Linked DNA regions of Homo sapiens: all the other regions are reported to be linked to region 6. The links are microRNA targets in miRTarBase. Many come from high-throughput screens and were not tested one by one. Region 6 holds a microRNA gene; each other region holds the end of a gene's coding sequence. Distances are from middle to middle.

Region 1 (4,000 bases), not on the chromosome of region 6:
CATTTTTATATTATAATGATTATTAGTCTACTTGCCTGTTTATGGTTTTAGGCTCTATTTGAGAGTTTTCAACTCTATGTTTATTATTTTTTTCTTTTGTATGTCACAGATAGGATCACGAGACCATTCAAATCTCTCCATTCCTTCAAGAGCTCCTCTTCCTGCTGACACAACTGGTATTGGGGATTTCTTACCATTGAAAGCTGAACTTGATACTACTTACACTTTCTTAAAGGAGACATTTATAAATACTGTGCCCCATGCTCTGACATCATCTCACTCCTCTCCAGTGACTATGTCTGCTAATGCCAACAGACCAACTCAGATTGGATTATGACTTCATGAAATTAAAAAATGGAGGAAGAGTTAACAGTACAATTAAAATTGTTTTGAATGGGAATTTTCTTATCAGTTGACTTTTGTTTCAGCAGAAGTGGCAGTGGATTTAAAAAATTTGTGCGCTATCTTGATGTATTCTGGTAGCTCTGTCTCCTTGAATAAGGAAATAGCCAACTTTTTTCTCTCCAAGTTTTATTTGTTATCACAGTTGCTCATTTTTATGTAACATATTTTTAAATGTTAAGGAATGACACATTTTGGGTAATTTCCCTCAGACTTAAAAAAATCAATAAGCCATTTTAGTCTCTATCTATCAAAGTTGTTTCATACTTGTCTATTTTAAAGCAGGACTGCAATGCTTTAATAGGATTGAGAGAGCTATTTGAAATGTATGCCAATGATTCCTGTCATTTCATGGCAGCCCGGCCATGGTTCACTGAGCCCCCTCTTCTCTCTTGTCAGCTCAACTGAAGACAAGCATTTAGTTGCAAACTTTAAGCAGGTTGTGCAAAACAGAAATGATGTGACTGCTTCTCCTCCTGCACAATAATGTCACTCCTGGTCAATGTGAGAAGGTCAGGTTGCTCCTTGTAAAGCTACATGATACCACTTGCCCATTTGAACAAGTTAAGTTAACTGCTGAATCTGGTCCCTGAAGGCACTGAAAACTCATTCTTTTAGCAAGTCTGCATTTGATAAGAAAGTAGAGCAATTGTGCTGGAGGATTTCTGTGGTATGTTTAGGCACTTCATAAGGACAGTTCCCACACTAGGATAGCAGGTAATATATTTAGTATAAGCTGAAAAACTTCAAGGTAATGGCTGTTTTGACCTTCAAAATAGACTCCTTTTTTGTTTTTGTTGTTGGTAGGACCCAAGAGTGACACCCATCTTTGATGCTGACAGAATTTAAAACAAGGCCATTGCCCTGCATTTTCTGCCTTGTAGCACACAAAAGTAAAATTGTATGTCAGGCCGAGATGTCGGGGAGCTGACAAGATGCCCCAGTGACATTTCAGCTAGAAAGAGCAAGTGTCTTGCAACCAAGTGGTCAAATATCAAATAATAGGTCAAGCAGGAAGGAGCTGAGTTCTAACCACAAAGAGGTTTCTGGTAACTTACTTGACAAGCTTTTGGGTGCTTTGTGGCTTGACAAAGTGATGTTCTGTTGGGTATCGCTAGACAGACTGTTCTTTATCGCCTTCAGAAGATCAGACATTGACATTGATTAAACTCTTTAACCCTTAAAGGTTAAATCCTTGCAGTTTGCATCATGGTAAGTGAAGAACAAAAGAATATTTGTAGTAAGAATTTGTTTTTGTATTAATCATTTAACTCCCTAGTGCTATTAACTTCTGATGTGAACTATAGCTTTTGACAAAGAGTCTTGATACATAATCTATTTTTTATATTATTTTTCATTATGGAATCTTTCATTATGGATACATTAGAGTATAACAGTATGTATTACAGAAGTTTTTTTGTCTTATCTTTACAGTGACATTTGATTCAAATTACCCAACTGCTGAGAATTTTTTTATTGGCCTTGGTAAATAAGATTTTATACTAACTATTTATTAGTAGCCAAATTAGCCAAGTGATTTATGCCATCTGAGGGAACACAGCAGTATTACTGTCGTACTGTGTAACACATCCTATTCTTGTAATACTGAACCACTATAATTAGCTTTATATAAAACTTTAGAAAGCTTATATGGAGTAAAATTATATCTTTAACCAAATTTCTCTTAATTCTTTCCTTGGAATTATTTTTAATATGACCTGTGTAACATGACCTGTATGAAATTCAACTTGCAAATTTATTATAACATGGAAGTGCTATTTATTGTTTTTATACAGATCATATAATTTCTGCACATTTCAGAACACCTTTCTCTGCTGTTCCAAACAATGATTAGGATATTGTTCATACAGAAATTGATAGACAATTTTTTAGTTCATGTGATATCACTGAGCTTACAATTCTCACTAGAGAAGAACAAGGTTACTATATGTAACCTCTATGTCTAAGTGTTTGTGTGTGTGTATGCTTGTGTTGAATCTGTTTTCAGATCCTACTGATTTTAGAGGAACAAGCAGCTTTGTAAAATGTGCCTTGGAAAGGCCTTGGTCTTCTTGCCTTGATTTTATAATCTGTTAATGGGATAACTCCAAAAATAAATGTGTATGTGTCTCCATATATATGGGTATCTAACTTTACAGGTACATTTTGTACAGTGAATTCTGAACCACAAATTCAAAATTCGTAAATTATGATTAAATCAAATCAAAGCATGTCACATTTATAAGCAACTAGATGCTAAAGGCCATAGAAACTGAAGGATGAACCTCCTGAGCGATCATTAGTATTCACTACCAAATATAGTAATATTTATACCATATGCTTTTTTCCCAGAAGTCAGACCCAGCAGGAGGAGAAGATTTAATGACATATCCTATGGAGATCTGAGAAACTCTAGACTGCTTCTAAGCACCTTAGTGACCAATTGCTGCATATTTGAGATCTCTGTTGTGTCGGCAAGGACAGTTGCTGTATCAGCTTCTTTATCTTTTTAAGAATGATGTATAGAGTAGACATATCTCAGGATAATGACTTCAAATATTTTTGTAGAGGAAAGGAAGTTTTACTTTACACTTCCGAATGTGGATTTTCCTGCTAACTTTCTGTGATCTAGAAACACACCTATATCACCTATCACTATTAATTCTTAAAGTTATTGTTCTGATACCTGAGTCACACTTACATATTGTGGAGTTGCTGACATTTTTAATACATGTATTTTGGAATGACATAATATAAAAACAAAGAGGTTTAGGATTGCAAAAATTGCCAGTTCAGTGATAACTTAATGACATAAATAAATAACCTTTTAAATAGAATGATCACTTTAATTTACCAAATATCTGACTCTTATTAAACTTAGCAACTCTATTTCCTATTTCATATTTATGACATATGCTATTATTGAATGTTTAATGAGATTATTAGTATTTTCATATTACTTCATTTACCAGTTGTCTGAATTCATTCTGTAGACCATACTGAACAATAGGAAGTTGATCCTATTTCACTGTGCACTTATTCTTTTTTTAAGAGATGGGCTCTCACAACGTTGCCCAGGCCGGTCTTGAACTCCTGGGCTCAAGTGATCCTCCCACCTCAGCCTCCTGAGTACCAGGGACTACAGATGCGTACCACTGTGCCCTCACTGTGCACTTTTTATAGACAAGTTTTCTAATATAAAAGGTGGAAGATAATTAATATTTATCAAGCAACTGTTTTATGCCAGTTATTATAGCAAAACTAATGATCTCACAACAAACCTCTAGCATAGGAGTTTCCATCACCATTTTAGACATGAATAACTGAGGATCAAAAATGTTAAGCTTTTGGCTACCAAAGATCATACATAACCTAGGAATTAGTAAGCCTAGAGCTGCAATTCCAAAGTCCACATTATTTTGAAACACTGCTAGTCCTGCCTTCCAGAAATAATTAACACTTTTTAAAGAGAAAAAAAAATTTTTTTTAATTGTCCTGACCAGCTAGGAATAATTTTGATAAGTATGTTTTGGTTTGAAATCTAGATTTCTTATGAATTGATTAGACAAAACAAAATACATACATACTAGCACTATTT
Region 2 (5,397 bases), not on the chromosome of region 6:
AGGCAGGTACATCCTCTGCTCTTTTGCTGTAGCTAAGGGTGAATTATTGTGCAGTTTAAGCACACATAGCACACATAGGCGTGGCTGATTGTTGGCCTACATGTGCCCAGGGCATTGTTTCATACATTACATCAATTCACATTCACAAGTACCCCTTGGCTACACTGGGATTTGAGTTCAGGACAGTAGGGCCTGATCCTAAAGTCAACATTTTTTTGCCCTCTTCTCCTACCACTGAATTCCCTTCCTGTTTCTTGATCCCCTTACTGAATCCTCTTTTCTCTCCTCATAGGCGGATGAAGACCCCATCATGGGGTTCCACCAGATGTTCCTATTAAAGAACATCAACGATGCTTGGGTTTGCACCAATGACATGTTCAGGCTCGCCCTGCACAACTTTGGCTGACCTCCTCTCAGCTAGGCACTCACGCTGTTTCCTCCTCCCTCCTCTTCCCAATACTATTCCCACTCCTCCAGATGCTCCAAATATCATGCACAAATGAGCAGGGCCGCGGTGGGAGTGGGCGCAGTGCGCTGCTGCCACTGAGGTGTTGTGCATGATGTTTGGATGCTAGACTAGTTGCATCTGACGGGAGAAGTTTGTGTTGTACCAGCGCATGCCTTGGAAAGACTTAAGTAATGCAAAAGGTTGTCCTTTTTTTTTTTTTTTTTTTTTTAATCTACTGACAAGTTGCTCTAGTAACCCAAAGAAGTGAAGGAGAAAGCAGCTGCCTCACCGCCCAGACATTGATTTGTTCAGATGTTTCAATGCCTCATGATACAATAAAACCACAAAAATTTTCTTAACAGTTTAAATTGTTTTAATTAGTTTACTAGTTGGCTGGGCATCAGAAGCTACCCAGACCCGTTGTCTCTCTCATGTTTCACCCTCCCACTTCTGCCCCAACTCTGAATACCTGTTGCAGGGAGAAACTGCTGAAGCAGCACTCCCAGCTAGCCTCTCAGAAGCCGTGTAGGGCAGTTCTCTCCCACTCCACAGGGCGACTGGTCTTTGGAAAGCAGGCAGGAAGAGCTCAGGTCTGGCCTGAAGCTTCTCTCACTGAAGCCTGTGCAGTCAGTTCTGATACCTCCTGTGACTTCTGCTCTGGGTAGGTTCAGGGCCCTAGTAGCAGGAGAGATGATCCTGAATCCTGTTGAAGCTGGAGAGGCCTTGGCAAAATGGCTCATCACGTTCAGGCCCTCCGGGCTGAGTTGTCAGCAGTATCAAGGGAGGGGCCTGCTCTATCCCCAGAAGGATCAGGATCATATCCAGGATGCCCCACATACACCAAGCCAGGCAGAGGGCAGCTCAGCTCCTGTCCCATCTGCTTTGGATATCTTTACCCAAAGGCAGGTAACCCGAAGAGCCAGCCTCCACTGCCCACAGAGCCAGGCCCAGTTGTGTTGGAGTATAGGTCAGGAGCTGTGGAAGGAGGCAGTCTGTGAGGGACTCATGCTTTAGGAGTCCTCACCCCTCAGACTGCTGCAGGACATTGCCAGGCCTCTCTCCACTTCCTTCCTCAGCATACAGACTTCATGCTATCTTCCAATTCCGGGGAGTCTTAGCTATTAGGGCAGTTTCTGCTTCTCCATTTTGGGGACAAAGGCCTTGCCCAGTACAAATCTAGCCCCTTGTCCCACAGACTTCTGGATGGTATAAACCTAGTGGCAATGTAGCAACCATAGGCTAGAACCAAACCCAAGATTTGGGTCAGTGCCCTGTTAAGGGTTTTAGGATTGGTAAGGACACCACAGCTAAATCTGACATGTAAAAGGATACCCTTCCCCTGTCCCACTACGGGTGGAGGCTAAGGACCTCCTCAGATCCCACAGATTGCCTGGTGACATTGGGCACAGGGCTGGATGGTGTGCTGTTTGAGAGGACAGCATGCTCAGGAGATTTCAGTGGGAATGATCTCTAGGCTGATGTGTATTTGGGGAAGTGGGGGTGGGGAAGAGGTAGGTGCCTGCTGCCTCAAACCACCTTGTGTAAAATCTGCAATACGGCTTCTTCCATGTACCTGTGCCTGAACTGTCTGCAATAAAGAAGAATTTGTAAACTGTGGTTTCTTTCTTCCAACCTGAGGGTGCCAGGTGGGACAAGGGGATGCTGGGGGACAGTAGGGAACAATGACTGGTCATTGTAGTGGGATCATCTCCCCTGCTCTTGCAATTCCTGAGTTTTATGACCTCGAGGGTAGCCTCAGGCCTTGAGTTATTCCGACCCATTCCCAAAGGGAACCTGAGGCACCTGCCAATTCAGCATATTCTGGGGGTCTGAGGGACCTTAGCATGGGCGGCTAAGTTGACCCCGTCCCAGGACCATCGGAGTCCATGCTCTGGGAGTGGGCAGGGACCTGGCGCCTTCTGAGTCGAGTAGGGCTTTAGGTGGCCCAGTGCGTGGACGCTTACTTCAGCCCCGTGGGACTTTCCTGACCTCGCGGACACAGGGGCGGGGCCGCCGAGGGGGACTGGCTGCGGGAGGGGTTTAGGCTTCCGCCCCCAGCCCGGAACCTTTCTTCTCCGGCCCTGGCAGGTTCCGGGAGCCTCGGCTCGTGGGTGCCGGAAGTGGAGGCGGTTGGTGGGGTTGGCGGGGCTCAGCGACGCTGCGCGGGTGGCGGTTTGCGAACTGCGGGTGGACTGTGTAGTGACCGGCGTCCCGCTGTCTCGCCCCGTGGCGGGTGAGCGAGGGTGCGTGGTGCGCGGCGGCGGCGGAACGAACGCGGTGCGGGCGGGGCGCCCGCCGCAGGGCCCATGGCCTCCTGCGCGAGCATCGACATCGAGGACGCCACGCAGCACCTGCGGGACATCCTCAAGCTGGACCGGCCCGCGGGCGGTGAGCGGGGGTTGCGGGGGTGGGCCCCAGGCGAGCTGACAAAAGGGCGGCGCGCGTCTGAACCGCCATTGGGGCCCACAGCTCCCTTAGGACTAGCTCTGGATCCTCCCGGCGGGTAAGGGTGGACGGGGATTGACTGTGCCCCTCGAAGGGCGCAGACCCCTGGGTGTGACCCCTCCCTATCTTGTCCTCAGGCTGTTCTGCCTTGTCCTTCAGCGTCTCGGTTGAAGGTGAGGCGCCTTCTCTGAATCCGCTGGGGCCCTCTGGTTTCCTGGCCCCGAGGTCTCTAGTGTTCCTGGGACTGGCCTAGCTCCTCTTCCCTTTCTCCATGGTTCAGAGGCCTGGTCTGGGCTCCGTATATGGAATTCTGGGCCCAGGCTTAAGCGCGATGCTGAAGAGCTGCCGGTCCCCCTCCATAACTTGCCCTTCTCTCTGGAATAAAGACTCCAGGCCTCCCGTTCTGAAACTGATTTCCAGGAGGAAGGTGTCCAGTCTCAATTCCGTGTTCTTTCTGGGATGAAGGCAAATCACAGACCGCACCACCCTGACTGAATTATGCTACAAATATCTGCAAGCCCTAATTGGTTCCCATTCATTCATATTTCGCTTTGGCTCTTAATGATACCTCAGAACTAGTCTTGCCCCCAAAGATTCCCCAAGACACAGCTAACAGGGTTGTAATATACTGTTGTCATTGAAAGAAAGGAGTGTCTCGATACTGTGATGGGCGTGGGAAGGGTGGAGGCTGGTGAGTGCAGAGTGCAGGTCTGAGAGGGGAGACTGGGCTAGGTCTTGTAATGTGAACAGGGGCTTGGGTGTCAGGAAAGGCACCCAAGGCACCTATGGAGAAGCCACCTATTAGGAAGAGGAAATAGCACGTGTGCAGGCACTAGTTTACTGACAGGTTTAGGGATCTCTGAAGTGGCCGGTGATGATGGTGTGGGCGTACAGTGGAGAATTGTGTTTCCTCAGATCTTGTTCTTACACCTGCTGGGAGGCCCAGACTGGCTGCTTCTGGAAGCAGGCACTGGTGCTCACTAGGGGTGGATTCAACTAACCCCTACTTTCAGAAAATCCATCTGCTGCCTGAGACCACTCGGCCCTTTGTCCCAGGCCTGGAGTGTGTGCCCTCTTTACTCATGAGTTGGGCGTGGACCTCTCCTGCTGCTCAGCTGCTTTGTAGACTAGACTCCGCAGAGATTTGGTAGAGCCTGGCATGGCCAACCATGTACAGCCTGAGCCTGCTTTTTGGTTGTCCTCATGGTACCCTTCATGGAAGGGAGAGTTGTCAGCTTGTCCCTGAGCAGCTAAAGTGGCTCTGATCTGAATGAAGTGGCCTGGAGGCTTTCCTTATAACTACTTTGTTTATTGATTGGCACTTGATTCCCTTGTTTGCCAAGCAGCTCTTTCTTGTCTCCTCTCACTGGACGACCAGGTCAGAACTCAGACTATTGAGGACTGGGCGCGGTGGCTCACACCTGTAATCCCAGCACTTTGGGAGGCCGAGGTGGGTGGATTGCTTGAGGCCAGGAGTTCGAGACCAGCCTGGCCAACATGGTTTCTTAACATGGTGAAACCTTATCTCTACTAAAAATATAAAAATTAGGTGAGCTGTAATCCCAGCTACTTGGGAGGCTGATGCAGGAGAATCCCTTGAACCCAGGGGGTAGAGGTTGCCATGAGCCGAGATCGCGCCAAAATAATTCAAAGACTGTTGTGACTGGAAACTTGCTATGTTCTGAATGTGGAGCCCTAGGCTCCTTGCCACCTGGGGATTTTGGAAATGGTGTCTGAGCCTATGAGAGTGTTTGAAACCCAGCCAGTTGCAAAGAACTGAAATGCTGTCTTTCCTTACTCCACACGCTGCCCCATAGTTTCTCTCCTTTTGGTCCAGCTCCTTTATGTCCCTGCCTTCTGTGTTTACTTGCCCAAGATAGCTTCTTCTGAGCCATTTCTGTGTGGGGCAGCCCCTTCCACATCTTACCAGTGCCCTTCCATGCCTTAGGAGCCCATCTTCTCTCCAAACTCTGACACTACATTGGTCTAGGCCTTGATCTCTCTCACCCAGATTCTCAACCATTCTGCATGCTATCTTAGAGTAATCTTCCCACTGGCCAGAACTGACCACATCACCTTCCCTTTTGAAACTCTTTATGGTTCTCATGGCCCACAGGGAGAGTCTAAGTGCCACGGCATCATACCTGATGCCTCTGTAGCTTTGTTTTCACTCCATCCTTCCTGTGTTTGTGTGTTCTGGTCACACTAACTGCTGTATAAAGTCTTTCCTGACCCCTCCTATGCCCTCACTCAGTCCACAGAGTTCTTCTGTAGTGACCCAGACCTGAGTATTCACTGCCCTCAAAGGGTCCTTGATGGCTTGTACCCCTCCCCCAGGTAGAAGAGCCTCATGCTCATCCTTGGTCCTGCCTACATCAGTGTTTATGGAACGAGAGATGAACACAGGGCCCTCCTCCTCATGGACATGCTTTGCTCAGTTGAGTGTTCCTAGAGCACCTCATAGTTCTTGAAGGAAACTCTGAAAGGGGAGAGGCTTGTGGGCA
Region 3 (5,656 bases), not on the chromosome of region 6:
ACATTGATTCCATTCGATTGCATTACCTTTTTGTTTGTTTGTTTGTTTTTTGAGACAGACACAGTCTTAATCCGTTTCCCAGGCTGGAGTGCAATGGTGCGATCTCGGCTCACTGCAACCTCCTCCTCCCAGGTTCAACCGATTTTCCTGCCTCAGCCTCCCGAGTAGCTGGAATTACAGGCACCTGCCACCAAGCTTAGCTAATTTTTGTATTTTGGGTAGAGACAGGGTTTCGCCATGTTGGCCAGGCTGGTCTCAAACTCCTGGCCTCAAGTGATGTGCCACCTCGGCCTCCCAAAGTGCTGGGATTACAGGTGTGAGCCACTGCACCCGGCCTATTCTATTGCATTTCCCATGTGTGTTTTGTCTCATTCAGAAGTGAAGCTCCTTAAAAGAAGCAATTCTCTCTCCTGGGCCCCACATACAATAGATACCAAAAAGTTATTTATAGATGCTAACAATTCATCCTGATTACACAAAGAGGGAATGAGAGGAGCAACTACATCCACAGCCTCCTCTGATCAAGGAGTCTCAGTATAAGAATTATATATTTATTTTAATTCATCTTTTACTAAAATCCACCCTTTATCCCCAGTCTCAAACTGGCTACCTTGTTTTAGCCCACAGCCATGTTTTGCTTGCCCAGGAAATCATTTTAACTAATTTTAAATTTTAATGCCCTTAAGTGGACATACACTCCGATTTATCATGGGCCATGTCATCTCCCTTTGACTCCCTCAACTGTATCAGCTGCCTGGCCTCTAAATTCATCAGAGTTTGCCACCTCTGCCCCAGGCAGAGCTAAGTGTGCTGCTTCTAGGTAGGTCTAGGGGCCAAGGATGAAAAGGGCTGGAAGACAGGAGACAGGAGACCCATACCTGTATTGAAAGAGGGTATCTCTGCCACAGCATGGAGAACAGACAGGAAAAGGAGTAAAGTCAGAGATTATAATTAGGAAGATACTGCAGGAATCCAGCCAGAAAGTGCTATCAGCTTAAAGGAGATGAAGCAGCAGGACCTTTGCCCCTGGTACTGGAAGCTCCTGACCCTCTGTCTGGCCAAGCCCACCACCACACAGCCCTGGTAAAGGGAGATTGTTTTCTTGAACACTTTATCTGTTAGGAATTACTACAGTGCAACATTTCTCAAACTCTAACGCACATCAGAATCATCTGGAGGGTCTGTTAAAACACAGTTTGCTAGACTCTACCCCCAGAGTTTCTGATTCTGGAGGTATGGGGTGAAGGACATGAATCTGCATTTCTATCAAGTACCAGTGACACGGAGGCTGCTGGTCTGAAGTGCATAGTTTGAGAGCCACCGGGCTAGACCAGCATTTTTCAGAACTTGGTTCCATATTAGAACCACTTTGGGACATTTTTCAAAAATTCAGATGCCCAAGTCATACCCTGGACCAATTACAGAAAGAATCTCTTAAAGGGTAGGACTCAGGAATTGGCATTTAAAAAGCTCCCCAGTTGATTATTCAGCTAACATTGAGAACTACTAGGACAGAGGCTCCTGGAGGCCATTACGAGCTCTAAAATACTATGATTGCTCATGTTAGTGTTTCTTAGTCGGTACAAGGAGTTTCAGAAATACATTTGGGAATCGATTGAAAATACCCCTTTGCAAAACAGAAAAGTAATATTCATTGAGTTTAAATGTTCTGTTTAGGAAGTGTCTGTCGTCTTCTTTTTCTAGTCAGACCCAAGCTGGTAGTGACATTGATAATGGCGGTGGTTTTGGAAGGTGGATAGGGAGCATGAGCTAAGTTAGGGTTGGGTGTATCATTACCTCACAAGATACTATAACCTGACTACATACACAAAGCCATCTGGCCCCACTCCATTTTCTAGATGGGGAAATTCAGGCCCTGAACCTGGCTCTAGACCCACTTCCCCAACGTTTCTAAATAAATGTTTGAGTTTAGCACACTAGACAAAGTCACTTTAAGTATCTTAAGCTGACATCAAAGCCAAGTTGACCAAAAAAAAAAAAAAATTTTTTTTTTAAAAAAAGGGCCAGGCACAGTGGCTCACGCCTGTAATCCCAGAACTTTGGGAGGCCAAGGCAGGCAGATCACCTAAGGTCAGGAGCTCGAGACCAGTCTGGCCAACATGGCAAAACCCATCTCTACTAAAAATATAAAAAATTAGCCAGGTGTGGTGGCGGGCGCCTGTAATCCCAGCTGCTTGGGAGGCTGAGGCAGGAGAATCGTTTGAACCCACCAGGCAGAGGTTGCAGTTAGCCAAGATCATGCAATTGCACTCCAGCCTGGGCAACAACAGCAAAACTCCGTCTCGAAAAGACGAGAAAAGAAAAGAGAAGAGAAAAAGAAAAGAAACAGCTGCCAATCTGCTGCTAATTGTTTTCATCATTGGTGCCAATCATTCTGCCCAACTGCAACTGAACAAGTCAGAAGTCAGGCTGCCTTGGGCCAGTTTTTCCAAGTACCCAGGTGAGGGGGATTTTTACTAACTGTTGGATCAGTGTTGTGTGAACTAATAGGACAAAAAAATCTATAGGCTTCACCAGTCAAGTAATTAGACTGACTTTTTTCTCTCTTAAATGTAATGTCAAGAGAGTTGAAATCCAAAGATGGCTACATTTAGAGAACCACGTACTTATTCCATTAATGTTGCTATTGCTGTAAACATGCTGGGAAGTCCTTCACAGAAATGTCTTTCAGATCTGGTTTACTTTCCACATTTCTACCCAGCCAGAAGCCCCTCTCACTCAGGCACACATGTTTTTTATACATTCATTCAACAACTGTTTGCTTTAATCTCTCTCCCATGGCTCCTCGTGTTAGCAGTTATTAAAGTTTTAAAATAAACCTGTTGTTGCTGAGGAGCACATTTCCAAGATTATATTTAGAGAAACTTATTTGGATTGCCTTGCTTTCACATCCACGCACTGCCCCTGGTTGAATATTCCTGTCATTCACCACATTTTACTCCCACGGACTCTTCCCTGTTTCCAAAATTAAATTCCCCAAGCAAGAACTAGGATGTGACACTATGGTCACCTCTAAAGACACTCAAATGTGAAAAGAAAATAATAGAAAATTTAGGAGTTTTAGAAGTGAGTCAATGTTGGCCAAGTGCAGTGGCCCAAGCCTGTAATCCCAGCACTCGGGGAGGCTGAGGCAGGCAGATTACCTGAGGTCAGGAGCTAGAGACCCACCTGGCCAATACAGTGAAACCCCATCTCTACTAAAAATACAAAAATTGGTGGTCATGGTGGCATGCACCTGTAAGCCCAGCTGCTCAATCAGGAGGCTTAGGCAGGAGAATCGCTTGAACCCGGGAGGCGGAGGTTGCAGTGAGCAGAGATTGTCCATTGCACTCCAGCCTGGGCAACAGAGCAAGACTCCGTCTCAAGAAAGAAAATAAAGAAGTGAGTCACAGTTACGGTGTGATTCCATGTCATTTCCTGCATTGTTAATGAACCATAGGCTCTGTGCTGCTCATATCATACCTGCAGTGAGACAATGAACTCTGAAAGCTGGGCATAAAAGGAGAGATACGAATCCATACGAGATGAAGGCAATTAGGGTAACAAAAGAACCAGAAATTGTATCCCAGAAGCAAGGAAATTTGGAGAAACATGAGATTCTCCTTCTAATACCTGAAGAGTTAACAGCTCTCCAGTACTTCCCAGCATGCTTAGAGCAATAGCAACATTAATGGAATAAGCACATGTTTCTCCAAAGGTAACCATCTTTTGGATTTCTACTCTCTTGACATTACCTTTAAGAGAGAAAAAAAAAAATCAGTCTTATTGACTGATGGAGCCTATAGATTTTTTGTCCTGTTAGTTCACACAACACTGATCCGGCAGTTAATAAAGGAGATGTTCTGATAGGCATAAGGAGCTCAACTATGACCTATGGGCAGATGTCATCCGGAGACAGATTTTGCTATAAATATTTCTTAATCTCAGAACTGCTCTGAGATTGAATGGACTCCCTTGCGTGTGGTAAGGAGTTCACTGTCACTGAAAGTGTTCAAGTGTACTGTGAAAGATCACTTAGCGGTGATTCTACAGAGATGATTAGAGCATGGACAGAGAAGTTGTGGTCTCTAAAGTACCCTTCATTCATGAAACTAAAGCAAGCCTGGATCAATGACATCCATGGAATAAGTGAGTCTTTTTTATGAAACAAGGAAATCTACTAAGACTTATTTTGACACTGGAGTGTCATGCCCCCATCCTCAATCTAACATGCTACTGCGTTGTTAGAGGGTAAAAAGGCCGTCTTCGTCTTCCCTTCCATGCTGCACGTCATTGAGGACATTTTTACTATCTCCAATGTAGTCTAGCCTGTAAACAGAAAAGAGGGGCTCATAATGGGAAACACAAGACTAGAAAACAAAACAAAACAGATGCTGCTAAGTTACAGTGCAATTACCCTTAAAGTTCAAAGGGCTCACAGTTCATTTAGTCTAAGCTCCACATTTTACAGATGGGAAAACTGAGGCTGCAGGGGAAAAAGAGTTTCTGCCAATCCATTATAATGAGATAAAAAAGATTCTTAGCAAAATATAAAATCATGATTTCAATACGTTTATTTACCAAAAGGTCTCTAAGTGTGACCTTGAAAGGTCACCTCGCTGGGTGTCAATTTTCCTTCTTGCTAATACATATTGTGGTATTAATGCAACTAATTAGTGAATGCAATTAATTAGGCAAGGACTTCATTAATAATTTATGCCTTTTTTAAAAATTTCTTTTCCAAAAGCTATAGAATAGGGCAAATAGCTAAAATCCCTTACTAGAGAATCTTCAAATACTATTTTTAAAAAGGCCCCAAAACAAGCTGCTTCCATGGTCTAACTGGGCAGAGGAACCAACTCCCAGGAATAATATTCTACATGCTTTTTTCATTTTCCATATTGCCAACGCTCCTCAATAAACTCCAGTTTAACAATGGCCTCTTAAACTAACTTACCCATAGGTGAACAAAAAATTTCAGAGTAAAGTGCCATATCACCTTCTTTCTTTTGCGTGCTATACTTCTATTAATCCCACCTGCCTTGGTACTGGCATTTTGCTCAGAGTGTTAACCAAGACACAGGTTAATGTGAGCTAAATCTGCACAACTTTTTCACTTCTAATGTCACATCTTTCCAACTCTATGTGTAATCGTAACACAAGCTCAAGTCATTAAACCACTGAGTAGTAGCTAATCATTTGTAACAGCTTGTACAATCATTACAACACCCATTCATGCAAGATAGATTACCTTGTGTGTTTCTGCGAACAATAGGTTTCCATGAGTTTCCCTGAAAAGACAAGGCCACAGTGTGAGCAGAGTGGCTGCGGTGCATAGAACATGCAAAATGCTGGGGGAATTCCAGTGCTGCCCCGCAAAGAGCAGATATGGGCCAAAGGTGAGAACCAGTGGCTGGCTTTGGCAGAAAAAGCCATTCCCTTTCCCAGGTCAAACACTTGCTATTTTAACCACAGTTAGTGCTCATCAATTACCAAGTTGTTCCAACATTCTGGGCAATGGTGTTAAGCTATTTCATTCTGAGTCATCTGCCTATCCAGAATTCAAGCACTCACTTGGGTTTCAAAACACTTCTTTACGAGACATACTCAGAATTTTCCAAAACTGTAATCATGCCTTTGTATGAAGGCTAACAGC
Region 4 (5,656 bases), not on the chromosome of region 6:
TTTACATTCTAAAGATCTATTTTGCTTTTCTTTGGACCACAAAATTAATTTTAGATTTTATAATTCAACTACCATATTTCTCTTACAAAAGGGACTAGATCACAGGGAAGGGTGACAGGAATAGAGATGTGACATTAACTAGTTGGAACTAAATGCATACATGATTTTGGTTACTCTTCTACAAAAGGTTTTGTTGCTACAATTCCATGACCAAAAATCTCTGAAAAGTTAAAGATTTTCCTAGCATTTTGGCAACAAAACTCACCTGGTAGCTGAGCCTGACTTCCCCGGCAAGGTTTTATGTACATATGTAGTCTTTCTTTATCCTACTTTAATACTCATTTTGCTACAGAAATGTTAATATACTTGATTATAGGTGTTGCCCCAAACCATATTGGTGTCTGAGTCATAATATTTTATAAAATCTGGAAAACTCCAAATTCTAAGACATCTGGCCCTACAAGTTTCAGACGAGGATCTGTGATGTGTAGTAACCTGCTGTGAGTCCAAAGGGACTATAAAGAGGACACATTTTGCATAGAATGGCAGTGTCAATACTGGGGAAATTTGTATTGGGAAACAGTGGGGAAAATGGGTGCCTTAAACTATTTGGGATGCTATAACAAAATATAGACTGGGTGGCTTATAAACAAATTTATTTCTCAGTTTTGGAAGCTGGAAGTCTGAGAGATCAGTGTTGAGGGCCCTCTTCCAAGATGCAGACTGCTGTCTTCTATGTGGCAGAAAGAGAGCTCTCTGGGGTTTCTTTTAATGACACAATCCCATTCATGAGGGTTTCACCCTCATTACCTAATTATCTCCCAAAAGCCCCACCTCCTAAAAGCATCACATTGGGGTTAGGATTTCAACCTAAGAATTTTGGGAGGACACATTCAGTCCATAACAAGGAGTATGCTGATTTTTCCCTACCAAACATTATTCTACCAGCATGTAAACTAGGAAGTATTAAAGGAAAAACCATTCTGACACTTGTTAAAGCAGTAAAGAAGACTTTACTCAGGACTGTATATGTTAAGACCATCACCCAATAAGGGAAAGAAACTGGGCTCAACTAACACAGCAAATACAACTGAGGATTTATAGTCAATGAGCAGTGATGAGGTCAGTGGATGGAAAACTACTAACTGGAGACATCAAGAGTAGGGTGATTCTTGCCAAAGACAGGCCAGGTTGACGATCATCAGTTATTGAGGATGGGATTATCTCTAAACTCATTTAGCAGGATTTTTGCTAAAACTGGACTAGTCAAAAACAGGGCTCAGAGGTGCCTGTCTAAAATTTGGTCGAGTCTTTTCCAGAAGCTGGACACAGTCCCTGTGCACACTGTGTACCACCTATATTTCTAATGAAGAAATTATCCTGAAGTATTGCATAGCAAAAACTAAGTATATAGCATTAGCTTACCATTAACATGACAAGCAGTGGGGATATATTTTGACACCTACTAATCTGATAGCTCTAGCTGGAAAAAGCCAGAATGTTAAGTGAATTGGCTATTCCTTGCTTTCAGCAAGGTATCAAAAAAATTGACATTTTCAAGCAAAGATAGAAGGGAATAGACAAAGTTTTGATACAAGGAACCTCATGAAATTAAGCCAATTGTTTCTGAAGTCTGAATAGCAGCAAAGGTTCAAAATTATTTTTGAGGTGGGGGAGATTGGGGGGAAGCCCATGAAGACTTCTCTACCAATCGTTAAGCCAAAGGAACCCAGCTTTGCAGTGATGATCTGCATGTAACATTCCCAGTGTAATCTTATTTTTAGTTGATCTCAAGATAGCCTCCATTAAAGAAAGGCAAAAATAATACATACTTTGAGAATTTGGTCAAAAGCTTGGTTGTGGTTCCTCGGCATATGCAATCAGAAGCACACTGATAAAAAGGCTTGAGTTTTTGAGAGAATCGTATTCCACAGAAACATGAGCTTGGCCTTAAAATGATGGGCACCAAATTCACACCAGCAGGAAGTGGACTGTCTTCACAATTCCCATGGAGTGAACACCCAATCTCTACTTCTGAGGTAGCCATGGAAGAAAATGGATAAGGAGTAACTTTCCAGAGGGGAAACCATGGAGTTCAATGAACAAGGGAGTCCCCTGCCAGAGATCAGAATCATAGTTGAATCAAGGAACTTCTCCACTGCTAGGGACAAAATCTTCATACATCTCCCAGGAGCATTCCACAATTTTTACGTTTCCCTTTATTCCATTTTCCAAATTGAGACTTTTTATTTGGCCATCCTGTCCCAACTACATTATAAATGGGCAGCAGCAAGGGTGAGAGCAAATAATTTGCCTATCAGTTTAGAGATTGTCAGACTATTAGAAGCCACATGTAAAGGGATGGACCTTTAATAGAGATCCTAGATTGTGAGCTGAATCACTAGCTGGATGAAGAGGGATTACTTTCTGTGTAAGGGAAGATACTTGGTAGCACAAGAAGAGCTGTGGCTGAGGCTGCTAGCAGCCACCAAAATCTTGTATTTATAGCTGGAAGATGGCTTCCCAGCCAGGGACTACATTTCTCAGCTCCTCTTGTATCTAGATGTAACTAAGTCTCCACACCACTGGAATATGAGAAGATATATGAGCCATTTCCAGGCACAGCCCATAACACCTTGCATATGTACACTTCCATGTTCTTTTTCTGCAAATTAGAAGAATAACTAGAGTGACTTGAAAGCCATGATTTAAAATGGCAGCACCATCCTCAGCCAAAGTCCCTGAATAACTGTTTGAACAAGGGCTGCTAGCCTGCAATGCTGACCTTGGAACCACTGGTTGGGAGAGAAACTTCTATATTTATATTCTTTATCACTGGGTCTCTTGCTAAAGTAGCTTAGCCTACCCTAAAAAATACAACTTCCTTTTTCCCTGGAGATACTGGATCCTTTGAGTGCTTTGCTTTTGTTTTCCAAATTAATGTATAATAGCCTATGATATTTATATTGATAACCAGTTATAGTTGTATTAATAAAAATATTATTCCCCTAAATAATCAGTAACTGGGTACTTAAATAAGATACACTATTCTGTGGCATTGAATAACCCTGGATACACCACTATACCTAAATACCCCATTTACTTAGGCAACTATATCAAAACACACACAACCTCTGAAATAGCTTTTTATTAAACGGCAAAGCAGAACTGCAACACAATTTAAATGTCTGTAAATTAGGTCACAAAAGGGATGCAAAATGTTTGCAGTTTGACTATTATATATTCACACAGCTAAAGTCATTCATCAACTCTTACACCAATACATAAGATTATTCCATGATTAAAAGCCCAAATCTAATAACCTTAAGCTACATTAGTGGATCTCTTTTCATATTATAAGATTTTAGCAATACTTCCAATATTGATTTCCTTACCAAATGGAATCTAGAAGCTAAATTTTTAAAAATTGTTAAAGGATGACTAAAACTCTTCAAACCCAGTAGCAGGGTTTACAGAAAATTCTAGAACAAGTGAGATAAAATACTGAGCAAGATAATAAGTATACATGTATAACTTTCCCATTTTATTCACTATTCTAATACTAATACACCATTACGGAATTTTGCAGAAGTTGACCCACTGGGTACAAATCAACTTAGAGACCAAACTCTTTGTAACTGTTCTCATCCAGATGTGGCTAACATAAGGGTAGTCAAACTTAATCCACTTTCATATATATTTCCCAAAAGATCTACTCTGTGCCAGAGAAAACACAAATCTGGAGTGAAAATATTTGGTTACTACTGTTTACCGAGTACTTTTCCACCCTATTTCCATTTTTCCTCAAAATTTTCTATTTTAACATACACATGACCAGAAATTATATATTTTCAGATAATACAAAATGAGTTATTTTGGGCAAAAAGAAGTTTTTAACAACAAATATTCCCAAGTTAATTCAGTTTCAAAGAAAAACCTTCATTTTTAGCCTCCATCTATTTCCAATTAATTAAAGAGACACTAGCATTCCTATCTTAACACTAAATACACAAATGACAAGCCCTAGCTGAGACAGTATCTTATTTTGGTTAAGTTTCAACAATTAAAATACAGGTTACTCTCAGAGATGATTAACTATTAAAATTACTTTTACAAATGTGACACCAATTTTTTTCCTTAGCGGAAGGGAAATAGGAAGGAAGAGGCAAATGGAGAAGAGGCACAAGATGGTGGACAGGGTACATAAAGCTGTGCATTTAGTACATGATTTTGGTCACTTTTTCACAACACGGTGGTTATTTTCTTGTATATCTTACTAATCCTATAATAAAAGACAGTGCTAAACCTACAAATTCAATAAAACATTCATCTTTAAGTTTCATAAATATATGCAATTCTAATCATAAAGTCTCTACAATACATTTGCACGTTTTCATAGACTAACATAATACACAAACTTATGGAAGTCTCCTGTTATTGTGTTATTTTTGTCTACATCTGACATTATCTTCATAAATATTCAATGAAGCCACAAAGGTACTGTAACTTTTGGAATCTATCCAAGTTTTAAAGAAAAAATGATCAGCAGCAATTCCATAAAACAGAAGGGTGTCAATCCCTTACTTTCTTTTGCTTTTTGTGTCAGTTGTTTGAAAAACACTAGAAGCTGACATGAGATTTTCTATATATTGTCCAAGAACTTGGTTTTCTGATTTTAGCTTCAGATTTTCTTCCTTAACTGCATCTACTCTTGCAGAGAGATCTATATAAAAAATAAAAATGCCCATTATCAATAAAACAATGACAATGATTCCATATTACAAAATTCTTAGGATTCATTCTTAAAAGAAATAATACAATCCTTAAATTTTAAGAATTCGGATTTTAGAGACAGCAAGGTAAACAAACTGAGTACAAATTAGTAGACAAATTCCTAAAAAGATATTTCACATTAGACTAAATGCTATTCTTCATAAATAGCATTAATGTTGAGTAATTTTTTAAAAAGACTTTGTTTTTAAAATGTGAATTTTGGTTCATGTCTTATCAACATAAAACTATAACATCTTTACTAGAAATGTTTAAGATATATATCAGGTTAACACAACTGAATTCATATACTGAATACAGGCAGTCAGTTTCCAAGCAACTTATCATCTTGTATTGTAACATTATCAAGACATTGAACACATGCAGTTCCTGATGATCACATAAGAGGTTAATTCCGGCTGGGCACGGTGGCTCGCACCTGTAATCCCAGCACTTTGGGAGGCCGAGGCGGGTGGATCATGAGGTCAGGAGTTTGAGACCAGCCTGGCCAACATAGTGAAACCCTATCTCTACTAAAAATACAAAAAAATTAGCTAGGCATGGTAGCAGGTGCCTGTAATCCCAGCTACTCGGGAGGCTGAGACAGGAGAATCGCTTGAACCTGGGAGGCAGAGGTTGCAGGGAGCCGAGGTTGCGCCATTGCACTCCAACCTGGGCAACAAGAGTGAACTCCATCTCAAAAAAAAAAAAAAAAAAAAAGAAAAAGAAAAAGAAAGCTAATAGGGAAGTCACAGATGACTTTTATTAACTCTGTAAAATGTAAATCAGTGGGAGGTTCTGAGTGACATGATCTGCTCACTGTGGCACCAAAAACACAACCTCTTAATTTCATTAAAACTCAAAAGATGTTTCAGTGTATTAATTT
Region 5 (5,553 bases), 23 Mb from region 6:
AGGTTGATCATCTTTCAAATACTTATGGATGTTTTCCTTTGAGAATTGCCCATTTTCCTATTTGTATTTAACCTATTTGTTAATGATATTTCAGAGCTCTTTATTTAAAAAAGTTTTATTTCTTTGTTTTATTTATATTGTAGATATTTTCCTATTTGTGATGTGTCTTTGGCTTGATTTTGTTTTATTTTTATTTTTTATTTTTTGAGACAGTCTCACTCTGTTGCCCAAGCTGGAGTGCAGTGGCACGATCTCATCTCACTACAACCTCTGCCTCCCAGGGTCAAGCGATTCTCCTGCCCCAGCCTCCTGAGTAGCTGGGATTACAGGCATGCACCATCATGCCCGGCTAATTTTTGTATTTTTAGTAGAGACAGGGTTTCACCATGTTGGCCAGGCTGGTCTCGAACTCCTGACCTCAGGTGATCCACCCACCTCGGCCTCCCAAAGTGCTGGGATTACAGGCATGAACTGCCATGCCCGGCCGGTTTTGTATTTTTAAAAATCTTATTTCAAAAAGTTCAAAATATTATGTAATAATCTTTCATGATTTTACTTTTGCTTATATGCATAATAGGGCATTTGCTACCCTGACATCCACTGTTCATTTCTTTCTTTTTAGCTTCTATTTTTATATTTAACTTTATTTAGTGGGAATGTACTTAGGCATAAAGTAGGAATATTAAACATCCTCTCACCCTCCATTATGTAGTTAGCCAGTTTTATGAAGACCATTTATTAATAAATATTTTTCTGTATTTCATTTGAAATGCCATCTTTATCATATGCTACATTTTAATACAATATATCCTCTATCTCAAAAGTGTATTTTTTTTGTTATTGTTTAAGTTTCTGACATTGGCATTTATCAGTCACTAGAGAAGAGATGTATCATAGTTGGCATGGGCTGTGCATGGGAGAACTTAGATGGCTGAGGTCACTACAGAGGAGGACTGTTATTTGAATTATTGGGACCATGTATAGTCAAAGTTTATTTATTTCTTTATTTTTATTTTTTTGAGATGGAGTCTCACTCTGTCACCTAGGCTGGAGTGTAGTGTCACTATCTGGGCTAACTGCAATCTCTGCCTCCCGGGTTCACGCGAGTCTCCTGCCTCAGCCTCCTGATTAGAGGAGCCCGCCACTGCGCCCGGCTAATTTTGGTATTTTTAGTAGAGACGGGGTTTCACCATGTTGGCCAGGCTGGTCTCGAACTCCTGACCTCAGGTGATCTGCCCGCCTCAGCCTCCCAAAGTGCTGAGATTACAGGTGTGAGCCACTGCGCCCGGCAGTTTAATTTTATTTGGATCTTGTCTTGGGTCTCTTTAGTGTTGCCATAAAGGAATACCTGAGGCTGGGTATTTTATAAACAAAAGAGATTTATTTGGCTCATCGTTCTGTAGGCTGCACAAAAAGCACGGTGCCAGCATCTGCTTCTGGCCAGGGACTCAGGCTGCTTCTACTCATGGTGGAATGTGAAGGGGAGCTGGCATTTGCAGATCATGTGGTGAGAGAGAAAACAAGAAAGAGATGGGGAGATGCTAGGCTTTTTAACAAGCAGTTCTCATGGGAACCAAGAGAACTTATTTACTCCTGGGAGAATGTCACCAAGCCATTCATGGGGGATCTGTTCCCAAATTTCTCCCATCTGGCCCCACCTCCAATATTGGGCATCAAATTTCAACATAAGATTTGGTGGCATGAAAAACAAATCTCATGTCTTTCTTGCATTGCAAAATACAATTATTCCATCCCCCAAAGTCTTAACTTGTTCCAGCATCAACTCAAAAGTCTAAAGTCTCATTTGAGACTCAAGGCAAGTTCCTTACAACTGTGAACCTGTAAAATAAAAAAAGAAGTTATTTACTTCCAAGATACAGTGGTGGTGCAGACATTCCCATTCCAAAAGGGAGGAATAGGCCAGAAGAAAGGGGTAATAGGCCTCATGTGAGTCCCAAACCTATCAGGACAGATATTAAATATTAAAGCTCCAAAATAATCTGCTTTGACTCCATGTCCCGCATCCTAAGAACACTGGTTCAAGGGGTGGGTTCCAGAGCCTCAGGCATCCCCATCCCCATGGCTTTGCTGGGTGCAGCCCACGTAGCTGCTCTCGTGGGTTGGAATCCAATACCTGCAGCTCTTCCAGGCTGAGATTGTAAGCTGTTGGTGGCTCTACCATTCTGAGGTTGGAGAGTGGTGCCCCTGCTCCATCTGCTCCACTAGGCACTTCTCTAGTAGAGGCTCTCAGACCCTGTGGCAGCCTTCTTTCTGGGCACCCAGGCTTTCTAATACATCCTCTCAAATGTAAGTGGAAGCTGCCAAGTCTCCACTACTCTTGCATTCTGCATGCTTGCAGACTTAACACCACATGGAAGTCTCCAAGGCTTACTGGGTACACCTTCCAGAGCAGCAGCCTGAGGCCCTTTGAGCTGGTGCCGCTGGGGTGTGGGGAGCAGTATCACCTGCCCCATCAAAAAGCCATTCTTTCATTCTAAACTTCTTAATCTGTGATGGGAGGGGTGGCAAAGATTTCTGAAATAGCTTTGAGACATTTTTTCCATAGTCTTATTAGCACCTGGCCCTTTTTAGTCATGCTCATCTCTTTAGCAAACTATTGCTGCTGCTTGGTCATACTCTTAGATTCCTCTCCTAAAAACACTCTTCTTTCCTTCTCTAACACAAGGCAAGGCTGCACATTTTCCAATTTTCCTCTGGTCTCTACTGTAAGCAGTTAGAAGTAACCATGCAGCAGCCTGAGCACTTTGCTGGTTAGAAATTTCTTTTCCCAGATACCCTAGGCCATCTCTTAAATGAAGCCTTCCATAAAGCCCTAGAGCATGGACACAATGCAGACAAGTTCTTTGCTACGGTGTAACAAGTGTGACTTTTGCTTCAGTAACTTATAAGTTCATCATTTCCATCTAAGGCTTCCTCAGTATGACCTTTGCTGTCTCTTTTTCTATAAGCATTTTGGTACACAACTACTTAACCAATCTCTAAGAAGTTCTACACTTTCCCTTGTCTTCCCTGTTTTCTCCTGAACCCTCCAAACTCTTCCAACCTCTGCCTATTACCCAGTTCAAAAGCTACTCCCACATTTTCAGGCATCTTTAGAGCAATGCCTCACTCCTGAATACCAATTTTCTTAGTATGTTTAGTGTTGCTATAAAGGAATATTTAAGGCTGGGTAATTTATTAATGAAGAGATTTGGCTCATGTTTCTGCAGGCTGTACAAGAAGCATGGCACCAGCATCTATGGCACCACGCCATTCATGAGCGATCCACGCCATGATCTAAACAACTCCCACCAGGCCCCGCTTCCAATATTGGGGATCAAATTTCAACATGAGGTTGGTGGGGCCAAATAAACCCTAGGCAAACCATAACAGATCTGTAATTAATTCTTAAATTCTTTCCAAAGAGTACACCAAAATGCAGTCTTATTTAAAGAAAATACTGTGTATGTTTTGGATTGGATGCTACCTACCAGAAGATATTGTAGATCTCTTAAAGTTAGATTATAAACTCTTCAAAGCTACAAGAGTAGTATGGCCAGTTCACACAGGGTGAAGAACTGTATCACTCAGCAACAATGGTAAGTTAAAATCCCAGTTAACTATCAGTTATCTGTTAAACAGATGCCCTGAGAGAAATGGCATACATAATTCCTCCCCCACCACCAAAAGCTACTATAACATTAGTGTTAAAAATCACTGAGTTAGGGCTCTACTACTCATTCTAAAAACATGAAGCTTTAAGTTTCCAAGTGAAGGGTTTTTAAGACATTTTGTAATAATCTTTACTTTTAGTCACTTTGCCAGGTTTTTCTTTGAGATTTTATTTTCCTCCAAAATCTATTAATAGGCCTTCTTTACCATTATTCCTATGAGGATATTGCTTGTGACCCTTTTCTTGAGCTGCCCCAGGGTCCTCATGTGTGATCTCCTCACTACACTGAAAACCCAACTTGTTTAACTACAGGTTTGTTGCCAGTGGTCTCTGCCTGAAGGGTGTTAACAGAATTATGGCATCTCCCAAATTAACTGATATTATAGGTCACATAAAAAAGTAATTGCAGTCATTTTATTTTACAGACTAAAAAAAAAAAAAAAAACCCAAGACAGTATACTGTAGTTTGTTAGAAATAATTTTTTATACACTAGGTTATAACTTATTCACATATATAAGCTTATTATCATAATAAGAAAAGGTTTATATATTTTGGGTTTTCTTGTTTTAATAAAATAAATGTGCTAAGGTTCCTTTTTAATACTTTTTGGGAATATGTTTTGATGACAGTAGAAAATATTCAACATTAATTCACTAAACAACCAAAGAAGTAAAATTTTGATACTACCTCCAAAGTTAAAGATAGCAGGCATATCTTAACTACTTCCCAAAAAGACTAGGGAGTTAGGTAAAAGAGTGAAGGCATTTGAGGATTTTTCAAGTTCCAGATGACCAGACAGAAACTGTAAGCCATTGGCTACAGAATGAATGATAGCAAACACTAAGGTTTTTATGCACTAGACAGTGTATGTAAACACTTACTTATCACAGCTCCTGATATGAGCTGTTAACCAATAAATGAGTTCCATTCAGGCATTATAAACTACTAGATCCTTAAGGCAATTCCTATTTTATGGTTTTAGGCAAATACTTATAGATACAGCAATATAAATGTTAGTTTCCTAGATTTGGCAACTGCTAAAAACAGTCTTCAGAACTACATTAGATGCTAATGATAGAACTACAAAGACTAATTTTAAAGTGCATATCAGGAGATAATAAATCCTGCAGAAGCCTTAGCCTCTGTACATATAATCATAGGTTAACAGTTTTACAAATTCACGAACATTAAATTAATATGGAACAATCTAAAAAAAAAACACTCTTTAAGATGCATCCAGTTTCTTATAGGCTTCTTCAATGAAGGTTGACATGCTCTTCATCTGTGATGAATTATGAAGAATATCCAAGTCCTTTAGAAGAGCATTCTGGTTTGGAATTAGCGCCAAAATTTCTTTCTGTGGGAAAGATAGTATTAAATGTAGTTGTTAACATTTTATTATGAGAAATCTCAAATGTATGTTAGAGAGAACAGTAAAATAAACCTTAAGTATCTATCATCCAACTTCAATAATTGTCAACGAATCGCCATTCTTCTTTCAAATCTATCTCTCCCTCTCCCCATCCTGCTCCTTTCACCACTGGTAAATGATAGGATTTGTTTGTTTGTTTGTTTTTGTTTTTTTGAGGTGGAGTTTTGCTCTTCTTGCCCAGGCTGGAGTACAATGGCGCAGTCCTGGCTCACTGCAACCTCCAGCTCCCAGGTTCAAGCAATTCTCCTGCCTCAGCCTCCCGAATAGCTGGGATTACAGGCATGTGCCACCACACCTGGCTAATTTTGTATTTTTAGTAGAGATGGGGTTTCTCCATGTTGGTCAGGCTGTTCTCGAACTCCTGACCTCAGGCAATCCGCCTGCCTTGGCCTCCCAAAGTGCTGGGATTACAGGTGTGAGCCACTGTGCCCAGCCAATAGGAAAATT
Region 6 (5,656 bases):
ATGGATTAACATATAGGGACTGCTATAAGTAAACAATCTGTCCAGTCGTATCTAGGAGAAAAATGACGGAATAGAATAATATAAAAGTAGAGGAGGGAAGATGAAGGGAATTCTGATACAAGTTGGGAATGTTACAAGAGTGAAAATACCATCCCAACACAATTGGAAAACTCTACCTAGGGGAGGAGGCACCACTAACTAATGACTGAGACAAACCATTAGGTTCAACCATATGAAATTGCCATTATTGTAGGTCAGAAACAACTGAATTTCAGCAAGTTTACATGGTCTAACCTTACATGTTATACCTGTATTGTGCTTACATTTTGCTATGTATATATGTGTATACATTTATAAATACCCAACACAAAGTTCATGCATATCTTCTTCCAAGATTCAAAAAATCTTAAGATGAAGGAAAGCTGACAATAATATTTATTATAACACATCTCCTTTGTCTAAAGGGTTATCAGTTCAATTACTTTCAAATTTGGTTGTAAACATATATTGTGTTTGGGCATAAATGCTTCTTAATTATTAAGTAATACCTGAATTTGCCACTTTTAAAATAAATATACTTTAAAAAATGAATACACTGAAATTGAGGAGCAACCAAACAGTTCTTACAGAAGCCAAACTGTACTTAGGAAACCCAAGTTGGCTATTTTCAGCTTATTCCTCAACTCCTTAGTTTCAGGTATAAAGTCATCACATACCAATTGGATGACTAGTCCAAAGGGAAGCTTAGTAAGAGATCACATTGTTTATTCTCATCCCTGAAGTCAGCCACACTTGAGAGATGAATAAACAACAGGTGCTGCCCAAGATTACAATGTAGGTTGACTTTGATGCTTCAATTATTTTTGGCCGAGATATTATATTTGTACATCTCTATGTTTGTAAATATTGCATATATGTATATATGGATAATTGTGGAAGTAAGAGCTATACACATCATTAGTTAATCTGATAAATAAACTTTAGTTAGTTTTAGGAGAATATCTCTGGATTATAAGAATAAGCCACTTCATAAAACATTTGTAAAACTTTGTAAAAACAAGTACATAAACAATATAGAAATGTATAACTTAGAAAGTCAAAGTCCCTAATAATCATTGTCTACACCTTTGCCTTCCTCTTTCAAATAATCAATATCATCAATTTGGGAGATATAATCTGAATTTCCCCCTCCTCATCACATGTTCTGTTTTTTTTTTCACTTATTTCTTTAAAAGTCTATCCTCCTTTGAGATTCTTTTCTTCACCCGTCTAGATCATAATGATATTTCTCTTCTCTACACTTTCAGTACTTTGAGTTTGCATGTTAATAATAAAATGTCTCACACGGTTCTCTAATTCAGTATTCCCCAGACTGTTTTCCATAGAACACCACTATCCCAAGAGATTTTTATAGATCTGTCTCAAGAAAAAGTTGCTCTGTCAAAAACACTTAGGGAGTTCTGGGTTCAATGACAATAACTGTATTTCTTTGTTGCAGAACTTCTGAGACACTGTGAGTGTGTGTGTGTTTGTATGTTTGTGTGTGTGTATGTAAGTTTCTATTCACATTTTATATAAATGAAAACATATCTTTGTCACATATATCAGATGTCCAATTTTGAGACTTGGTTGTGTTGGGGTCGCTAAGGAGAAGTGGCCCTGCGAATGAGGAAGAGACAGTGAGGGTCAAGAAGGAAGGTCAGAGTAAGCAGGGAAGAATCCAAAGAACATGGTATCCTAAAATCCAAAAGAGTTTTCAGAAGGAGAAAATGGGTCAGGTGCAGTGGCTTATGCCTGTAACCTCCACACGTTGGGAGGCCAAGGTATAGGGATCTCTTGAGGCCAGAAGTTTGAGACCTGCCTAGACAACATAGTGAGAACCTACTGAGACATCTTTAACTTCTTAGGTGTGAATGGTGAAGTTCCAGGGGAAGATTTTAGTATGCCACATTTCTAAAATTTGCATCCAGGAACATCATCCTATTCACCTTCTGACTGATATCTTAAGTGACCTTAATGGTTTTTAGAACCTTGTATGGAAAACTCTACATTCTTGAGAGCAGGGACTTTGTTCTTCATTCCTTTTTGAGACCCTTGTAGTGCATAGCATAGATCTGAAAACATCAAAGCACCCAACAAATATCCGTTGATTGCATCATATGGTTGAAGGAAATAAAAAGAAAAAAATGAAAAATATATTGAAAGATAACTAATATATGCCCAAACTTTTCACCATACATTTTCCTCACTGATTTATTTATCTTGAATTAAATAAAGGGATATTTTTTTGTCTTTAAGATGTACATCTTAAAATTACATAATACCATTATATTTCACTATACTGATCAAAAGTTATTGCATAGGAAGGGTGTACAGACTGATTATGAAATCCCAGTGAGAATATGAAAAATTTGCTGACTAAAATTTTTATAGTGCAAGAAATGTGTTTCTATCCTAAAGAGGGTTATAAAATGGGAGAAATAAAACCCTAAGAGTCATATCATTAAATTTATGGAAGTTCATTTCCTGTGTGTGAGGAGAGTCTAATGGAAAACTTTATAACCATGGACCTTCTCCTTTGTCACAGCTGAAGGGATCCAATGCTAAAATTCTGTTCCATGTAACAAAAAGTACAGTAGAAGAAAATATTGTATCTTGAGTATATTCCTGTCCTTCTATATCTTCCTCTGACTTCTGTAAGATATATTTTAAAAACTCAGTCCACATTCCTTAATTCCTCCAACTCCCTCCAGAAACAACAGGTCTTCAAGGTGTAATTGGGTAACTTTTATTGAAATCAGCTGTTGGTAGTCCCTGGCAACCATATGTGCCAGTTATTGAGTCACAGAGGAAGTGCTGGGTTCCTGAACACAGTCTGTATGGAGTAAATTCTCGAAGCATTTGGCCCTATCTCACAATGCCTCTCACTTTGCCCTGCTCATGATCCAGTCATGGATTTTAAATTGAACCCATGTTTCTGTTTCCATACTGAAAGTTAAGTTTTAGCATAAATATTTGAGGGTCACCACAAATTTAAGAGGATACCTTTCAAAATATGCTTTTCTTTTTTTTCTCTCTCTCTTTTTCTTTCTTTCTTTCTTTGATGGAGTTTCACTCTTGTCACCGAGGCTGAAGTGCAGTGTGGTGATCTTGCCTCACTGCAACCTCTGCCTCCCGGGTTCAAGAGATTCTCCTTCCTCAGCCTCCTGAGTAGCTGGGATTACAGGCGCCTGCCACCATGCCCAACTATTTTTTTTTTTTTTGTTATTTTTAATAGAGACAGGGTTTCACCATGTTGGCCAGGCTAGTTTCGAACTCCTAACTTCAGGTGATCCGCCCGCCTTGGCCTCCCAAAGTTCTGGGATTACAGGCATGAGCCACCACACCTAGCCTGCTTTTCTTTTTATAATACAAAAACAAAATAACATTTTTGATTCGAACCTTATTGGGAATATTTGACTGCTAGTCATAAACTGCCTAAACTAATAAATAACAAAGTAATATATTTATGAGACAGCAACAAGAAATTCTTCTTGGGCTCAGGATGATATCTCAAAGTAATAAAAATATATGCTATCTTCTGTATTTGGCTTCAGGACCTGATGGTGGTGGATGGTGGGAAGTGCTCTAACTCGACTGGAGGCAGCACCTCCCCTTCTGCTCCAGCACACGGCCTTGGGCAGGCACTTTAACCTCCCTGGGACTGGCATCTCTCTTCTGTAAAACCAAGAGGTTGATCTGCATAAACACAAATAGCACTTCCACATATGTCCAAATCCATGACAATATTATTCCAGGTAAAAATGTGCAGCAGATCCTCTTACACATAGACAAAGTGGGCCATTCTGTTTTACAAATAGCACTTTTCAAGCAATGTGACTTTTTTGTGCTTAACCCAGTAATGAGCATTTCCTAAAAATTTAAATGCTAATAAGATAAACCTTAATAGCAACTTGATTGTGGAAGTTTGGATTTAAAAATAAAATAGATAATAACTCTGGAGATGACAGGACCACTTTTCTCCTCTAAATTGTTTGATGCTGTGGGTCAGTGGATAGGAAAACAATAAGAACATCTGCTCAGATGACACACTTCACATTCCCGATGAGGCCATAATAGTTCACGATGAAATGTTGAGAAAATGGCTTCTAGGAAAGAAAAAAACAGAAGGAGATACAGCCATTTCTCATTATTTGCAGTGGCAGTTATGTTCTGTAAAGTCACTACAAACACTGAATTAGTAAATACCAAGCCATTGCTCGTAGGGATATACAGGACTAAGTCCCCAGGAGCCTCTGGTCTCATCAGTTTTATCAACTTATCAATACATATTATTGTTTTACCTGTGCTTCCATTTAATGATACGTTATTTAATATTGTTGATTCACTAATGTTGAACTCACAGCCAAGAGCACTGTAACTCATGCCTGAAAGAAGCTTATCTAACCAACTGTGTTTTCTCCAAGAGGCTCATCACAGCCTTCTTGTGCTTTGGAACAGTAGACAGCACTTCAGCACTACTCTTGGGGCCAATTTTAAGTGGTGAAATTATCAACAAAAAGCACAAAAGGCTGAGCATGCCTGTAACCCCAGCACTCGAGGCCGAGGTGGGAGGATCACTTGAGACCAGGAGTTTGAGACCAGCCTAGGAAACGTAGTGAGACCCAATTTCTACAAAATAAACAAATAGATAAATAAAACGTAAACCAAAAAAGAATTTTTTTTTAAAAAAAGCACGAAAATGTGAAAAACAGCAGAAAATAGGTCTTGCAAGGGACACATGTTTACAGTGTGAGTGCTGAAACAAGAAGACAAGAGTGTCAGTTTGTTCAAACTCAGTTGAGAACCCGAATGTTGGGAGACTAAAATTTTTTTGTTGCTCTGTAAAGGGCCACAAAGGTGCCATAGGTGTTATTTCACCTCATAAATACATTTTTAGTGGGTTAGCAAATTTGCAAACATGGAATACACTAATAATATTGAGGATCAACTCTGTATAAATTACATATAAATTTCAAAATATGTAAAATTCTAAGTATCATAACTTTTTTATTTAAAAAGCAAAGAATGGTATTGCTGTTATTAAATTATATAAGAGATGATCTTAAATGAATATTTTCTTGTAATCACCAAGGATAGGAAATCAATAAGGTATTTATAGTTCATATACAAATAATGTCTTTCTGTACCCTAAGGCATATTTTCACTATGAATAAAGGTGGTTTGTTTTAGAATCAACAAATAAACAGAATTACAACATGAAAACCTATGAAGGCTGCAAATATTCTTAGAAACTTGAGAGTAATGAGGCTTGTTCCTACTATTGATTAATACAAAACATTTGACCAGATCTCTATAATAATCCACATGAAATTGCAAGGGTCATCCAGAGGAGTAAAGTGAGCAGCTTAAATGATGCCATCATTTTTAATGTTTGATAACTTACATTTAAAAGTCTATCAGGGCACAATTACGTTTACTGAGTACACTGATTGAATAAATACAAAGCTGCCAAGAAACTCACTGGCTTGAGAACTAATGTTGTAAAAGTGGTCAAGACAGCATTGCTATGATTCATTTAAGTAAATATTCATTTTTAAAAAATTTTCTCAAGCAAAAGAAAATTGTGAGACCTCAAACAAGGCACTGAAACTCA

Evidence for each region. The annotated mature microRNA hsa-miR-4282 reads UAAAAUUUGCAUCCAGGA and lies in region 6 at 1,955-1,972, shown strand. An mRNA with a match to its seed (bases 2 to 7 or 8) in the 3' UTR can be bound and repressed. Matches are read on the target gene's strand: a 7mer-m8 pairs with bases 2 to 8, a 7mer-A1 pairs with bases 2 to 7 and ends in A, and an 8mer does both.
Region 1: miRTarBase lists CCDC171 as a target of hsa-miR-4282. The part of its 3' UTR that is shown has no 7-base or 8-base seed match.
Region 2: miRTarBase lists NUTF2 as a target of hsa-miR-4282. Seed matches in the 3' UTR shown: 7mer-m8 at 796-802.
Region 3: the mRNA of TIMD4 is a reported target of hsa-miR-4282. The part of its 3' UTR that is shown has no 7-base or 8-base seed match.
Region 4: miRTarBase lists SCOC as a target of hsa-miR-4282. Seed matches in the 3' UTR shown: 7mer-A1 at 4,100-4,106, 7mer-m8 at 3,807-3,813 and 8mer at 1,295-1,302.
Region 5: miRTarBase lists CENPQ as a target of hsa-miR-4282. Seed matches in the 3' UTR shown: 8mer at 4,345-4,352.

What each region holds. Positions count from the first base shown.
Region 1 is chr9:15,971,500-15,975,499 of GRCh38, forward strand. CCDC171 (coiled-coil domain containing 171) reads left to right here. Exons shown (of 26, transcript NM_173550.4): 26 at 110-2,538. The coding sequence ends at 337. Among named protein-coding and RNA genes, the nearest start is that of LINC03041, 300 kb to the right of the region's middle.
Region 2 is chr16:67,870,508-67,875,904 of GRCh38, forward strand. It overlaps NUTF2 (nuclear transport factor 2), which reads left to right. Exons shown (of 5, transcript NM_005796.3): 5 at 293-2,060. The coding sequence ends at 406. EDC4 (enhancer of mRNA decapping 4) reads left to right here and starts at 2,545. Exons shown (of 29, transcript NM_014329.5): 1 at 2,545-2,836. The coding sequence starts at 2,755. RefSeq lists a silencer at 2,658-2,867 and an enhancer at 2,761-3,261.
Region 3 is chr5:156,915,213-156,920,868 of GRCh38, forward strand. TIMD4 (T cell immunoglobulin and mucin domain containing 4) reads right to left here. Exons shown (of 9, transcript NM_138379.3): 8 at 5,252-5,291; 9 at 4,080-4,329. The coding sequence ends at 4,245. Among named protein-coding and RNA genes, the nearest start is that of TIMD4, 45 kb to the right of the region's middle. RefSeq lists an enhancer at 5,582-5,656.
Region 4 is chr4:140,380,029-140,385,684 of GRCh38, reverse strand. It overlaps SCOC (short coiled-coil protein), which reads right to left. Exons shown (of 4, transcript NM_001153484.2): 4 at 1-4,723. The coding sequence ends at 4,581. Among named protein-coding and RNA genes, the nearest start is that of SCOC, 9.2 kb to the right of the region's middle.
Region 5 is chr6:49,491,622-49,497,174 of GRCh38, reverse strand. It overlaps CENPQ (centromere protein Q), which reads right to left. Exons shown (of 9, transcript NM_018132.4): 9 at 4,068-5,031. The coding sequence ends at 4,900. Among named protein-coding and RNA genes, the nearest start is that of GLYATL3, 5.5 kb to the left of the region's middle.
Region 6 is chr6:72,964,013-72,969,668 of GRCh38, reverse strand. It overlaps MIR4282 (microRNA 4282), which reads left to right and starts at 1,916; the gene lies at 1,916-1,982. The region is part of intron 1 of KCNQ5 (potassium voltage-gated channel subfamily Q member 5); the gene reads right to left. The region is part of intron 3 of LOC105377855 (a long non-coding RNA gene); the gene reads left to right.